Homo sapiens: one gene and its partner. The protein of the gene in region 1 purifies or fractionates together with the protein of each later gene. This does not show direct contact. Each region holds a gene or a part of one and is shown on either strand. Other genes may lie near its edges.

Region 1 (7,104 bases):
TGAGGGACACATAGAGAGGTGTGGAGAGAGGCCCCACTCTGCCTGGCTATGGACAGTCCAGCTACAGAGATGAGATGCTCACATGAAGCAAGAGAAAAAGGTGTGATACCAACCATCAAGATGCAGTCCCATGAGATCTGGCTGGCGTCCTCCCACCTACAAAGCCCTCTCACACATTATCTATTCGATCCACATCATTACCAAATAAGATAGGTAGTATTATCCCCATTTTACAGATGAGAAAACCAAGGCTTGGAGAGGCTGTGACTAGCCCCAGCTCAGCCAGCCAGGTTGGATGCAAATCAGCAGAAGCTTTAGAATTTCTATACAGGCATCTGCTCTGCAGTAGGGTGGGACGGGGACTTGCTTTGAAGCCTCATTTTATATCAAGCACACTGGTTTTACTTGGTTTGGGCTTTGGCAGTGGCTGAGAAAGGGGTGGGAGAAGCCAATGGGGCTGGAAAGGAGAGTATAAAATCTATGAAAGTAATTTATTGGTGATATCCATTGAGATACACCCAGTTCTGTCTGTCTCCAAGCCAGGGTTCTTTCCTATTCTGGATGGAAGGAGTTGTTCCAAGATAGCAGAAGGTAGTATGGAGTACATTGACTGTGGAAGAGGCAAGGCTTAACTCAGAGTGATCTCTGTAGGACTTGAGGGCCAGGGAGGGCAGCCCCAGGAGGGACACAATTTAGGAGCAAAGGTGTGGTGGGCTGTTAATTGAAGTTTGCTGAAGGCATCAGAGACCTCTCAGTTCTACACATGGGCAATCTGTACTGGTGGCTGGGACCTGCCTACTTAGGTGGGAACTCTGGGTCAGTCCCTGGGGAAGGCTCCTCCCCAGCTTTGGTGGACATGGGCCTGCCTTCTGCTCCCAGGTCTCAGCCTCCAGGCAGGGACTTATTCCTTGAAATCTTGCAATTCAGGTCTGGCCATCAGGTGAGCCCAGGATGTGCCCTACTAGACTGAGGCATACTGTAAAATAAATCCAGGCTGGCAAGGCATTGTATCTCTCTCCTCTCCCTCCAGCCATGTCCAGTGCCCTTTTACACAGAGCCCCTCAGCAGAGATCACCCCCACCTGCCTACCTCAACCAGTGGTTCTCAACCGACAGGACACAGAGTTTTTAATGATGTCCCACTGTCCCTGCATGTATCGTGGGCAGTTTCCTCACTGAGAGGCTCCATCAGTGAACATCTGGTGTGTTTGTTATAACTTCCTTCCCTTTCTCTCTTTGTCCAGCAACCTACTTATTCTCAAAGCTCTGTTCAAGCATCACTCCACTGGCTTTCCCACCCCACCCTGGCTGGTGTTTCTCCTTGAGCTCCTTTGCTCCCTGTGCCCACCTTCATTTACCACGTGTCATTTCTGCTGTATATGGTGTGAGGGGCCTAACTTTGATTCTTTCCAGATTGGTAGACAATTAAGTCATTGGCATTTATAAAACATCTTTTTCTTATTCATTTGAACTGCTACCTTCATTGCACACACCCTCTCCATATATGCTCAGACCTACCTCTGTTTGTCTGTCCTGGTGGCAATTCCATGCTATTTTAATCCCAATGGAATTATAATAAGTTTTGTATAGTGTGTCACCATCATTACTGGTTTTGTATTTTAGTTGACAAAAATTGACATTTGTTATGATATTGTTTTCCCGTGCAAGAACATGTTCAGATCCTATTGCAAATTTATATCCTGTGGGTAAGTTTTATAGATTCTACTATTAAACTTATTATTGTTATTAAATTTATTTATAAATATTTTATAGATTTTGACACTTCTGTGAATCAGACATTTCCTTCACTTCTATTTCTAATTGGTTATTGCTAATGTAGAGAAAAGCTATTCATTTTTGTACATTCACCTTAAATCCAGCCATATTACCAAACTCTGTTATTATTTTTGATCTGTTTTTCTAGAAAACCTAAAGACAATAGGGGATGGGGCAGTGTTTGGAGAAACTCAGATTCTGGGCACTGCAGTGCATGTCCTCCTGGGGACATGAGGCATAGCGAGAAATTCATGAAACTGACAGGTCAGTTGTGTATATGGAGGCGGGGGCGAGATAAGGTGGCCCCTAACTCTCCAGAGAAGCCTCTCCTCCCCGAGGCTCAGGACCTCCCAGTCCTCACTCCTGCATCCCACTCTCACTCCCCCACCACCAAGGAGCTGAGGCACCTCTGCACATCTCAGGTGACCCTGAACAGGCTCTTTTGCAGGATCCCCAAGAGAAAGGGCTGACCACAGCAGAAACAGAAGCCATGACTGCAGCAGGGAAAGGGAGGACTTAGGGCTGGTCCATCTGAGTGCTGAGGTCCAACACTCTCAGGGGCCTCGAAGAGGTTACTAGAGCCCTCTGACACCCCTAGACCAGCAGAAGTGGCAGCACTTGGCAGAACCAGGAATAATAGCAGCCACCATGGAGTGCGTTCCCAACAGTCCTCTGAGGATTCCCCTTTACAGATGAAGAAACTGGAGTTCAGGGAAATTAAGGAACTCACTTCAGTTTACACAGATAGTAAATGGCAGAGGAGGAATTCAAACTCAGGAACCTAACTCCACAGCCTGCCGCACCCAATATTCCCACGTGGCCATCTAGGCCATTCATGTTAAGCCCACCGGCCAAAGACTGGATCCCCTAGAAACTGCAGAGCTTTCTCAGGGACCCTGGAGTTCATGCATACACCAGACATTGTCTGCAGACATTACAGTAATATGTGCCCACTTGGGTCCTGTGGTGAATTGAATGGTGACCCCCTCCCACCCCCCGCAAAGGATAACTTCACCTGGAATCTCAGAAGGTGACTGTATTTGTAATAGGGGTCTTTGCAAATGTAATGAAGGTAAAGATCTCAAGATGAGATCATCTTGGATTAGAATGTCCTTCTCAGAGACAGAAAGGAGGGGACATACAGAGACACAGCGAGGAAGGGCGTGTAAAAATGGAGGCAGGCAGAGGCTGGAACGATGCCGTTGCATGCCCAGGAATGCCACAGGCCATCCGAAGCTGGAAGCTGCTGGGAAGTATTCGCCCCTGGAGCCTTCGGAGGAAGCATGGCCCTGCCAACTCCTTGTTTCCAGGCTTCTGACCTCCAGAACTGTGAAAGAATAAACTTCTGTTGTTTCAAATCACCTGTTTGGTGGCCATTTGTTACAGAAGCTCTGGGAAACCGACACAAATGTCCACCATTCTTCTGTTTTTTTTTTTTTGTTTTTTTTTTTTTGATGGAGTTTCACTCTTGTTGCCCAGGCTGGAGTGCAGTGGCGCGATCTCGGCTCACCACAACCTCCGCCTCCTGGGTTCAAGCAATTCTCCTGCCTCAGCCTCCCGAGTAACTGGGATTACAGGCATGTGCCACCATGCCAGGCTAATTTTGTATTTTTAGTAAAGATGGGGTTTCTCCATGTTGGTTAGGCTGGTCTCGAACTCCTGATCTCAGGTGATCTACCTGCCTCGGCCTCTCAAAGTGCTGGAATTACATGTGTAAGCCACCATGCCTGGCCCAAATGTCCACCATTATTATTCTTCATAAGAAACATAGGCATTTCAAGCCATTACCAAACTTATAGTCACTATTTATCATTATCTATTTTTCTCCATCAATGGATATGCAACTATTACTATCATGAAAAGTAAATTATATTTGCAACCCCATTATCTTCTAGATGGAGAAACAGTTTGAGAGAGGGCAGTGGAGAAGCAAGAGAGCTGGTCTGGAACCCAGCTGCCTGACTCGTGAGTCATTTCTCTTCCTCCAAAGCCCTATTAAGTCTGGGGCTGCTTATGGTCCTCACCAACTACACAAAGAAAGTCAGGGTCATGCTCATCCATCAGGAGGTTCAGGGCCACTTCCCGCTTTCCTCTGTTTGGCAACACTAAGAGTCACCCTCTGATTGTTCCAGAAAAGCAAGAATTGCTAAAGGCCATTGTGTCAAGTTTGCCCAATTCATGCTGCTTGACATCTTACCCCTCCCCACCCTGCTCCCATCCCCCCCACCCAGTGCCCCTGATTGCAACACTCCTGGCTGGGGTGGGACAGGGTGGCCAGATAAAAGCAGAGCAGGACCTGGAAAGCTGGTTTGTATGGGCTGCAGCCTGCCGCTGAGCTGCATCATGGTGCGGTCTGTGGCCTGGGCAGGTGAGCCGTCGGATAGTGGGCTGGGTCTCGGGAGCTGTGGGGAGGTGGGGATGTGGATGTTCAGGGACCACTTGCTACCATTTGCAAGGAAGCAGGAGGACTCAGGAGAACTTCAGAGGGTCATTTTATCCCTCTCCATGCCTCCTGGCTTGCAGTCCCTTGATTACCTTTCCTGTGGGCTCCCCCTTAGGCTCTTTCAGCCCAAGAGACTTCATGTTGCAAGGGAAGGCTTTTCTCAACAGGCTGAAGATGACTTGACTTTCCTCTCTCTGTCCTGAAAGCCCAGAGTCAATGAGGCCCCTGCACTGGGTCTTTGTGTCTTTCCCATGTTCTTAGGTCCCTCCTGTTGGCCTTATCCAAGAAGCGCCCACTGCCAAGAACCTCTTCTCCAACCTCATATTGTCTGTCCTGCAAGAGGGCAGCCTGGGGCCAAGATCCTGGGCATCCTTGCAAATTTTCATGGAGGTTCTATTAGGTTGACAGAGAAGTCCAAGGTCACCAGGTGAAAGAGATCTCTTCGAAGGAGTCCTGTCAGACCCTAGGTCTCCAAGGCTGTGGTTGCCTACCACAGCCAGGTAGCGGAAAGGCAACAGGAAGCCATAAACGATGGGAGCAGAGGCACAGGCCCTCCCCAGGAGATGAACTCTCTCCATGCAGCCCTTCCAGATTGATTCTTTCTAGCCCCAAAACAGGCTTGTTTCTTGTTCCGAAAGAGAAACTATCTCTCTAAATAACTCACAAGTCAGCAGTTTTTCCACAATCTTCCTGAATCCACACTGCCCTTTACTGAGGTATAGAGAGGGGGCAGCCTCAGCCCATGGAACTTTCCATCAGCTTCTAGGACCAACCCAGGCCAGGAAGAGACCCCCGTGGTCTGGTCTGCATGAAGGGATGGGCACAGTGCCCTCCTGGGTCCCTTCTGAAAGGAGAAAGCTTGATTTGTATGAAATCAGCCCTCCCTGACCACCTCCTGTGCTTCCGTAAGCTGTGGGGCCTGGGAAGGTGAGAATGGCAGCATAACCCTGGCCTTCTCTCTTGTGTTGCTCCAGGTTTCATGGTCCTGCTGATGATCCCATGGGGTAAGTAGCCTCTTTCTTGGCTGCCTCAGCCCCTTCCCTGGGCTCTGCTTAATGTCCCAAAACACCTTCCCTGCCAGACCTCCCCAAGAGCTCCAGATTTCAGTGGGGACTCTCTTCCAAAGCTCAGACCCCTGCAAATGTCCCCATCTGCTACCAGCCCTCCCAGGAAGGCTCTTGCCTCCTTATCCATTAGCTGAGCTCCTGCACATCTGTGGGGCCAGCTTGCGCATCAGCCTCTTTCAGGGCTTTCCTTTCCTGGGGTTGCTGGCTCCCTCCTCTGCACTCTGTGCTCTTGCAGCACCTGTGTGTTTTACAGTACAGTACTGCCTCTCATTATTGGCTTAGGTGTCTCTCTGCACCAGTCTCAGACTCCAAGTTGCTGCAGGTAAGGAACCTAAGTCTCATCTGGTTCAGCATCCCCAGCCCCTTAGCTCTGCGAGGACAACACACTTGCTTCTGGTCTGTTGAACTGATCAGATGTGGAGCTTGAGAGAGGCAGGAGGGAGCTCCTTGTTGTGTCAAATGGAAAAGAGACCTGGGGGACCTTCAGCAACTTGAACTCCTGGTCCCCGTCTTGTCCCACCCCATTCCCTGGGCATCAGTGGCCTGGGAATGCTGGCCTCTCAGAACTTGTCCTGCGACTGTGCCTCTCACGCTGGGCTGTAGCATTGGAGGTACATTTCCCTCTCAGCCTCATAGGATGGAACAGCCGGGGGCACAGAAACAGCAAACATGGGGAAGATGAGAGGTGGAAGATTTCTCAAAAAGCTTTAGTCCAGGCTACTTCTGGGCTTTCTGCAGTATAGTAATAATAGTAGGACTTTGTGTGGACTAAGGGTTAATATATGTGAAGCACCTAGAACAGAACTTCTTCCTTGCAGTGTTCCTCCGAGTGTTTTACATATATTAACTTTAGCCCACACTGGGGTCCTGTGACACACATTGTGGAAGGTCCAATGGTCTCCCCGTTTCACACAGGAGGAAGCTGAGTCGCACAGCGAGTAAGTTGCAAAGTTGGGATTTCAACCCAGACACTGACATGCCAGAGTCCCTGCTGTTAACCACTGCACTTTATTTTCTCCATAGTACAGAAATTCATAACAATATTTGATATGCGACAGCATGACATGATAGAAAAAGAGCTTCCTGGCTCCTTCCTACATGGCCTGGGGGATGAGTTATCTGGTTTCATCCCCTCCTTCCTTTCTTTTCCTTTGGGGAGTTCACCAATTCTCCTGTATCATTGCAGGCTACACCCCAGCCCCACTAGCAAGCTGCACTCCTGGGTGACCTCTGGTTAGAGACAGTGACCACTCCGGGGCCACGTGTATGCCCAAGGTCAGCCCTCCATGCTCTCGGGTTCTAGTTGAGGCCTGCCTGAGCGGTCTCTTCCCAAAACTCTCCTATAGACACTTTGCACCCCTCCTCTTCCTCGTCCCATCCCTGTCCATGTGGGCATTGGAGGGGGTACAGACAGACCCTGCTGGGGCAAAGGGAAGTCCCAGGTTCTAGACACCAGCCACAGGCACGCTCCAGTCCAAACTCACTGCTCCATCAAGATCTTGGCATAAAATGTTGGCTCATACAAACCACACCATCATAGATTGAGAGACTGGAAGAGACCCCACAGACCACACAGTCATTATCAGATGGGGCCGGGATTGAAGATGAGATAGACCCAAAGTCTATTTTTGGCAGATGCTGGAATGAAGACTAGCATTCTTGCTTCCTGGTGTCCTGGTCAACCCTGCACAGGGCTGACCTCAGTGGGGGTCATCACCACCGAGCCCTCACTGGGAATAGACCATCCCACCCCTGCAAAGTCTTTTCACACACTGTAGGGTACTCTAGAGACAAGTACCCTACAGTGTGTGGGGTACTT
Region 2 (7,028 bases), on another chromosome or scaffold:
AGCCCCAGCCACTCAGGAGGTGGAAGTGGGAGGATCACTTGAGCCTGGGAGGCGGAGGTTGCAGTGAGCCAAGATTGCACTACTGCACTCCAGCATGGGTGACAGAGTGAGACCCTGTCTTAAGAAAAAGAAAAAAGAATATAAACATAAAAATCCTCAAAAAAGTATTTGCAAACTGAATCCAGCAGCACATTGAAAAGATAATACACCACAAAAGTAGGCTTTATTCTTGAGATGCAAGGTTGGTTCAACATGCAGATCAATAAATGGGATTCATCACAGAAACAGAACTAAAAACAAAACAAAAACCACATGATCATCTCAAAAGACACAGAAAAGGCTTTTGATAAAATTCAACATCGCTTTACCTTAAAAAACATCAACAAACTAAGCACTGAAGGAACGCACCTCAAAATAATAAGAGCTATCTATGACAAACCCACAGCCAACAACTGAATGTGCAAAAGCTGGAAGCATTCTCCTTGAAAAATGGAACAAGACAAGGATGCCCACTCTTACCACTCCTTTTAAATATAGTACTGGAAGTCCTAGCCAAAGCAATCAGTCAAGAGAAAGAAAGGAAAGGCATCCAAATAGAAAGAAAGGAACTCAAACCATCTCTCCTTACAGATGATATGATTCTTTACCTAGAAAACCCCATAAACAGTCTGCTCAAAGGCTCCTGGAACTAATAAACAGCTTCAGTAAACTTGCAGGTTACAAAATCAATGTATGAAAATCAGTACATTTCTATACACCAATAACACCCAAGCTGAGAGCCAAATAAAAAACGCAACCCCATTCATAAGAGCCACAAAAATAATAAAATACTTAGGAATACAGTTAGATGTTTTACCACAATGAAAAGGAAATCAGAGATGACAGAAACAAATGGAAAAACATTCCATGCTCATGGACAGGAAGAATCAATATTGATAAAATGGTCTTACTGCCCAAAGCAATTTACAGATTCTTATTTGTTATTCCTGTCAAACTACCAATATCATCTTTCACAGAGTTACAAAAAACTACTCTAAAATTTGTATGGAACCAAAAAAGAGCCCAAATAGCCAAGGCGATCCTAAGCAAAAATAACAAAGCTGTAGGCATCACACTACCTGACTTCAAACTATACTACGAGACAGTAACCCAAACGGCATTATACTGGTACAAAAACTGACACATAGGCCATGGAACAGGTTAGAGAACTCAGAAATAAAGCTGCACATCTACAACTATCTGACCTTCAAAAAAGCTGACCATAACAAGCAATGGAGAAAAGAATCCCTATTCAATAAATGGTGCTGGGATAACTGCCTAGCCATATGCAGAAGATAGAAACTAGACCCCTTTCACCATATACAAAATCAACTCAAAATGGATTAAAGACTTAAATATAAGACCTACAACTATAAAAACCTAGAAGAAAACCTAGGAAACACCATTCTGGACATAGGCCCTGGCAAAGATTTCATGGCAAAGTCTCCAAAAGTAATTCTAACAAAAACAAAAATAGGTAAATGGGACCTAACTAAAGAGCTTCTATATAGCAAAAGAAACTATCGACAGGTTTCTTAAACAGACAACCTACTGAATGAAAGAAAACATTTGCAAACTATGCATCTGACAAAGGTCTAATATCCAGAATCTATAGGGAACTTAAAACAATTGAACAAGCAAAAAACAATCCCACTAAAAAATGGGCAAAAGACATGAACACTTCTCAAAAAAAGACATACAAGCAGCAGCCAATAAACATGAAAAAATGTTTCACATCACTATCACCACAGAAATGCAAATCAAAACCAGAATGAGATACCATCTCATACCACTTAGAATGGCTATTCTTAAAATTTCAAAAAAAAATAATTAAAAAAAAAAAAGATGCTGGTGAGGTTGTGGAGAAAAGGGAATACTTATACACTGCTGGTGGGAATATAAATTAGTTCAGCCACCGTAGAAAGCAGTTTGGAGATTTCTTTAAAAAAACTTAAAATAGAACCACTACTTGATCCACCAATCCCACTACTGAGAATATACCCAAAGAAAAACAAATTGTTCTACCAAAGTGACACACACGTCCTTAAGTTCATCACTGCACTGTTCACATTAGCAAACACATGCAATCAACTGAGATGCCCATCAATGGTGAACTGGATAAAGAAAATGTGATACATACACACCATGGAATACTATAAAGCCATTTTTAAAAAAACCCAAATCACATCCATTGCTGCAACATGGATGCAGCTGCAGGCCATTATCCCAAGCAAATTAATATGGGAACAGAAAACCAAATACTGCATGTTTTCACTTGTTAACTGGGCACTAAACACTGAGTACACATGGACACAAAGACAAGAACAATAGACGCTGGGGCCTACTAGAATGGGGAGGGCAGGAGGTAGGCGAGTGTCAAAAAGCTACCTACTGGGTACAATGCTCACTACCTGGGTGACAAAATCACTTGTACACCGAATTCCAGCAACACATAATTTACCCACGTGACAAACCTGCACGTGTACCCTCTGAATCTAAAATAAAAGTTGGAAAAAAAATAAACAAGAAAAAAATGGACTATGATAAAGCCAAAAGTAATTCTGGTTTTCCCTTTCAAAGTACTGAATTTTGTTACTTCAGAAAGCACTACATCTTTACAATCATTTCTATAATGCTACCAAAATACACTGAAACTAAATGTGATAGATTCAAAGAAGAAATAGAGATAAGGAGCTGGGTGTCGTGGCTAATGCCTGTAATCTCAGCACTTTGGGAGGCTGAGGCAGGTGGATTGCTTGAGCCTAGGAGTTCAAGACCAGCCCAGACAACATGGTGAAACCTCGTCTCTACAAAAAATACAAAAATTAGGCAGGCATGGTGGTGTGCATCTGTAGTCTCAGCTACTTGTGAGGCTGAGGTGGGAGAATCACCCGGGCCCGGGGAGGTAGAGGCTACAGCGAGTTGTGATCATGCCACTGTGGCCTAAGCATCAGAGTGAGACCCTGTCTCAAAAAAAAAATAAGTTCTAATCTCCACTCTAACATTTTGACTTTCAAGTTTAACTCTGTGAACTTCTTTTCAAAAATTATTATAATGTGATAAGATAATAAGACTTGTCCTAACTATTTTATAAGGCTGCTGTGAGAATTAAAGTCTAGGTTGCTTTAAAAAGATGAATTATTTTAAGTATTTGCCAAAATAAATCATTCAGCCAGTAACAAAACCAAGTTCTCTGCTTTGTCCTTCTTCATAAATACATTTAAAAAAAAAAAAAAAGAACAGTGCAGGGCTTCTCAATTATCTGCTTTTTTAACGGAAAGATAATCACAGATAAATGAAATCAATAGATAACTAGCAATCTTTAGATCATGTTCTCAAATTCTTCTATCAGAAGTTGAATAAGACCATCTATTCAAAATCAAATCTCTGCTTCTTTCCCCAATCACCCTCTCCTTTATAATTAAAAAGTGAGGATTGTAAAAAACAAAAAAGCTTCACTCATTAATTTCTTCATATGATATTGCTCTAATATACAGAAATTTTGGCTCACAATTGGTTTAACTAATTTTTTTTTAACTGGCAAGTCTTTTTTTTTGAGACAAGGTCTTGCTCCGTTGCCTAGGCTGGAGTGCAGTGGTGAGATCATGGCTTACTGCAACCTTGACCTCCTGGACTCAAGTGATCCTCCTGCCTCAGCCTCCTGTGTAGCTGGGACAAGCACGCATCACACACCCAGCTAATCATTTGAATTTTTGTAGAGATGGGGGTCTCACTTTGTTTAAGACCACTTTGCCCATGCTGGTCTTAAACTCCTGGGCTCAAGTGATCCTCCCACCTCAGCCTCCCAAAGTGCTGGGATTACAGGCATGAGCCGCCATGCCCAGCCAAGTTTTAATATACGTTTACTTATCTATATTACGCCAATAAGAAATTTGATGGATTTTTCTTTTTTTCGCTTTCAACTTGTTACTTACCAAGCAGCATTCTGTTTGTAAATAAAATCTATCTATCTCAAAGTACTAGAGCCTTTTGTTAACCAAATCAAGAAGAATATAACACCCCGGGATTGGTTTCATTTTGTCACTATAAAGCAGGGATTAGCAAACTTTTTCTGTAAAGATCCAGAGAATAAAATATTTCAGGCTTTGTGAGCCATACATGGTCTCTGTAGCATGTTCTTTTTCTTCCCCCCAACTCTTCAAACTCAACCCTTTAAAAATGTAAAAGAATATTCTTCTTAGGTTAAGGGCTCTACAAAAATATAAACCGTTAATAAAGCATCACTGAGGCAGCTCTAATTTCTAGGAAAAAATATATATACATGATATTAGACAGACACATAGAGAAAGGCAGAAAATAATCTAGACCACAGCAATGTTAGCTCCATTACCTATATAAAAATAACTAAGTTAGGCCAGGTGCGGTGGCTCACGCCTGTAATCCCAGCACTTTGGGAGGCCGAGGCGGCCAGATCATGAGGTCAGGAGTTTGAGACCAGCCTGACCAACATGGTGAAACCCCGTCTCTACTAAAAATACAAAAATTAGCTAGGTATGGTGATACGTGCCTATAATCCCAGCTACTCAGGAGGCTGAGGCAGGAGAATGGCTAGAACCTGGAAGGCAGAGGTTGCAGGGAGCCGAGATCGCACCACTGCACTCCAGCCTGAGCAATAGAGCAAGACTCCGTCTCAAAACAAAACAAAACAAAACAAAAAAAAAAAAAAAAAACAAAAAAAAATAACAAAAATAACTTGAGAGATGCTGTAATGGTGAGAGTTTAGAGCATTCCTGAGGACCTGGAGAAAACTCGTTTCTGAGAAGGACATTTTGAAGGTTTTGTTGCCTGAAAAAGTTATCTCTGGAATCACACTCCTAGATCTTTATTGAAGACTTGAAAAGAATTAGATTAGGACCATGCGGACACAGAAGGTCACCCCAGCTCTGATCGTTGCCATTACAGTTGCTACAATTGGCTCTTTCCAAGTTGGCTACAACACGGGAGTCATCAGTGCTCCTGAGATGATCATAAAGGAATTTATCAATAACACTTTGAGTGACCAGGCAAATATCCCTCCCTCTGAGATGTTGCTCACGTCCCTCTGGTCCTTGTCTGTGGCCATATTCTCCATTGTTGGTATGACTGGCTCCTTTTCCGTTAGACTCTTTATCAACCACTTTTTGACAGGTGCAATTCAATGCTTATCGTCAACCTGTTGGCTGTCTCTGGTGGCTGCCTTATGGGATTGTGTAAAGCAGCTGAGTTGGTTGAAATGCTGACCCTGGGCTGCTTGGTTATTGGCCTCTTCTGTGGACTGTGCACAGGTTTTATGCCCATGTACATTGGAGAGATCTCAGCTACTGCCCTGCAGGGTACCTTTGGCACTCTCAACCAGCTGGGCATCATTGTCAGAATTCTGGTGGCCCAGATCTTTGGTCTGGAATTCAAATTCATCCTTGGGTCTGAAGAGCTATGGCCGGTATTATTGGGCTTTACCATCCTTCCTGCTATCCTACAAAGTGCAGCCCTTCCATTTTGCCCTGAAAGTCCCAGGTTTTTGCTCATTAACAGAAAAGAAGAGGAGAATGCTAAGTAGATCCTCCAGCAGTTGTGGGGCACCCAGGATGTATCCCAAGACAACCAGGAGATGCAAGATGAGAGTGCAAGGATGTCACAAGAAAAGCAAGTCACCGTGCTGGAGTTCTTTAGAGTATCCAGCTACCAACAGCCAATCATCATTTCCATTGTGCTCCAGCTCTCTCGACAGCTCTCTGGAATCAATGTTGTGTTCTATTACTCAACAGGAATCTTCAAGGATGCAGGTGTTCAAGAGCCCATCTATGCCACCATTGGTGCACGTGTGTTTAATACTATCTTCACTGTAGTTTCCCTATTTCTGCTGCAAAGGGCAGGAAGGCGGACCCTGCATATGATAGGCCTTGGAGGGATGGCTTTTTGTTCCATGCTCATGACTGTTTGTTATTAAAGGATGAGTATAATGGGATGAGCTTTGTCTTTATCGGGGCTATCTTGGTCTTTGTGGCCTTTGAAATTGGACCAGGTCCCATTTCCTGGTTTATTGTGGCCGAACTCTTCAGCCAGGGCCCCCGCCCAGCTGCGACTGCAATGGCCGGCTGCTCCAACTATACCTCCAACTTCTTAGTCGGACTGCTCTTCCCCTCTGCTGCTTATTATTTAGGAGCCTGTATTTTTATTATCTTCGCCAGCTTCCTCATCACCTTCTTGACCTTTACCTTCTTCAAAGTCCCTGAGACCCATGGCAGGGCTTTTGAGGATATCACATGGGCCTTTAAAAGGCAGGCACATGGTGCAGATAGATCTGGGAAGGATGGCATCATGGAGATGAACAGCATCCAGGCTGCTAAGGAGACCACCACCAATGTCTAAGTCATGCCTCCTTCCACCTCCCTCCCAGCATGGGAAAGCCACCTCTCCCTGAATGAGAGACCTCATCAGGATGAACCCAGGACTGCTTCTGAATGCTGCTACTTGATTCCTTTCTTATCCCACGCACTCCATGCGCACCTCAAGGCTGGGGTTTGTTGGATTTTCAATGGTTTTTTAAATATTTTATTTCCTGGACATTCTCTTCTGCTTAGGAGAGACCAAGTGAACCTACCTTCATTTCAGGAGGCAATGGCCACTTGGCATATGACAACTTTGCCAGTTTTTCCTTCCTTGGGTTCTAATATTGCCGCACTAGGGGATATAGGAGAGGAAAAGTAAGGCGCAGTTCCCCCAACCTCAGACTTATCAGGAAGAAGATATACATATGAGTGTGGAAGGCAGACGGGGTTTATGTAAGAGCACCTTCCTCACTTCCATATAGCTCTACAAGGCAAATTAACTTGAGTTTTATTTATTTTACCCTCTGGTTTAATTACATAATTTTTTAAGTTCTGGGATACAGGTGCAGAATGCGCAGGTTTGTTACATAGGTATACATGTCCCATGATGGAAATGTTTATTTTTTTAAGTGTAATTTTGCCAAATAATAAAAACAGAAG

What was found.
Region 2: the proteins of CHIT1 (region 1) and RMDN1 purify together in Homo sapiens (affinity purification with mass spectrometry; 2 studies listed by BioGRID and IntAct, with this or other methods). This does not show direct contact.

Annotation. Positions count from the first base shown.
Region 1 is NC_000001.11:203,226,651-203,233,754, reverse strand, and holds the start of CHIT1 (chitotriosidase-1 isoform 1 precursor), read left to right. Parts: upstream 1-4,081; 5' UTR 4,082-4,118; coding exon 4,119-4,143; intron 4,144-5,192; coding exon 5,193-5,222; intron 5,223-7,104.
Region 2 is NC_000008.11:86,498,660-86,505,687, forward strand, and holds part of RMDN1 (regulator of microtubule dynamics protein 1), read right to left. Parts: exon of another isoform or gene 4,757-7,028; intron 1-4,756.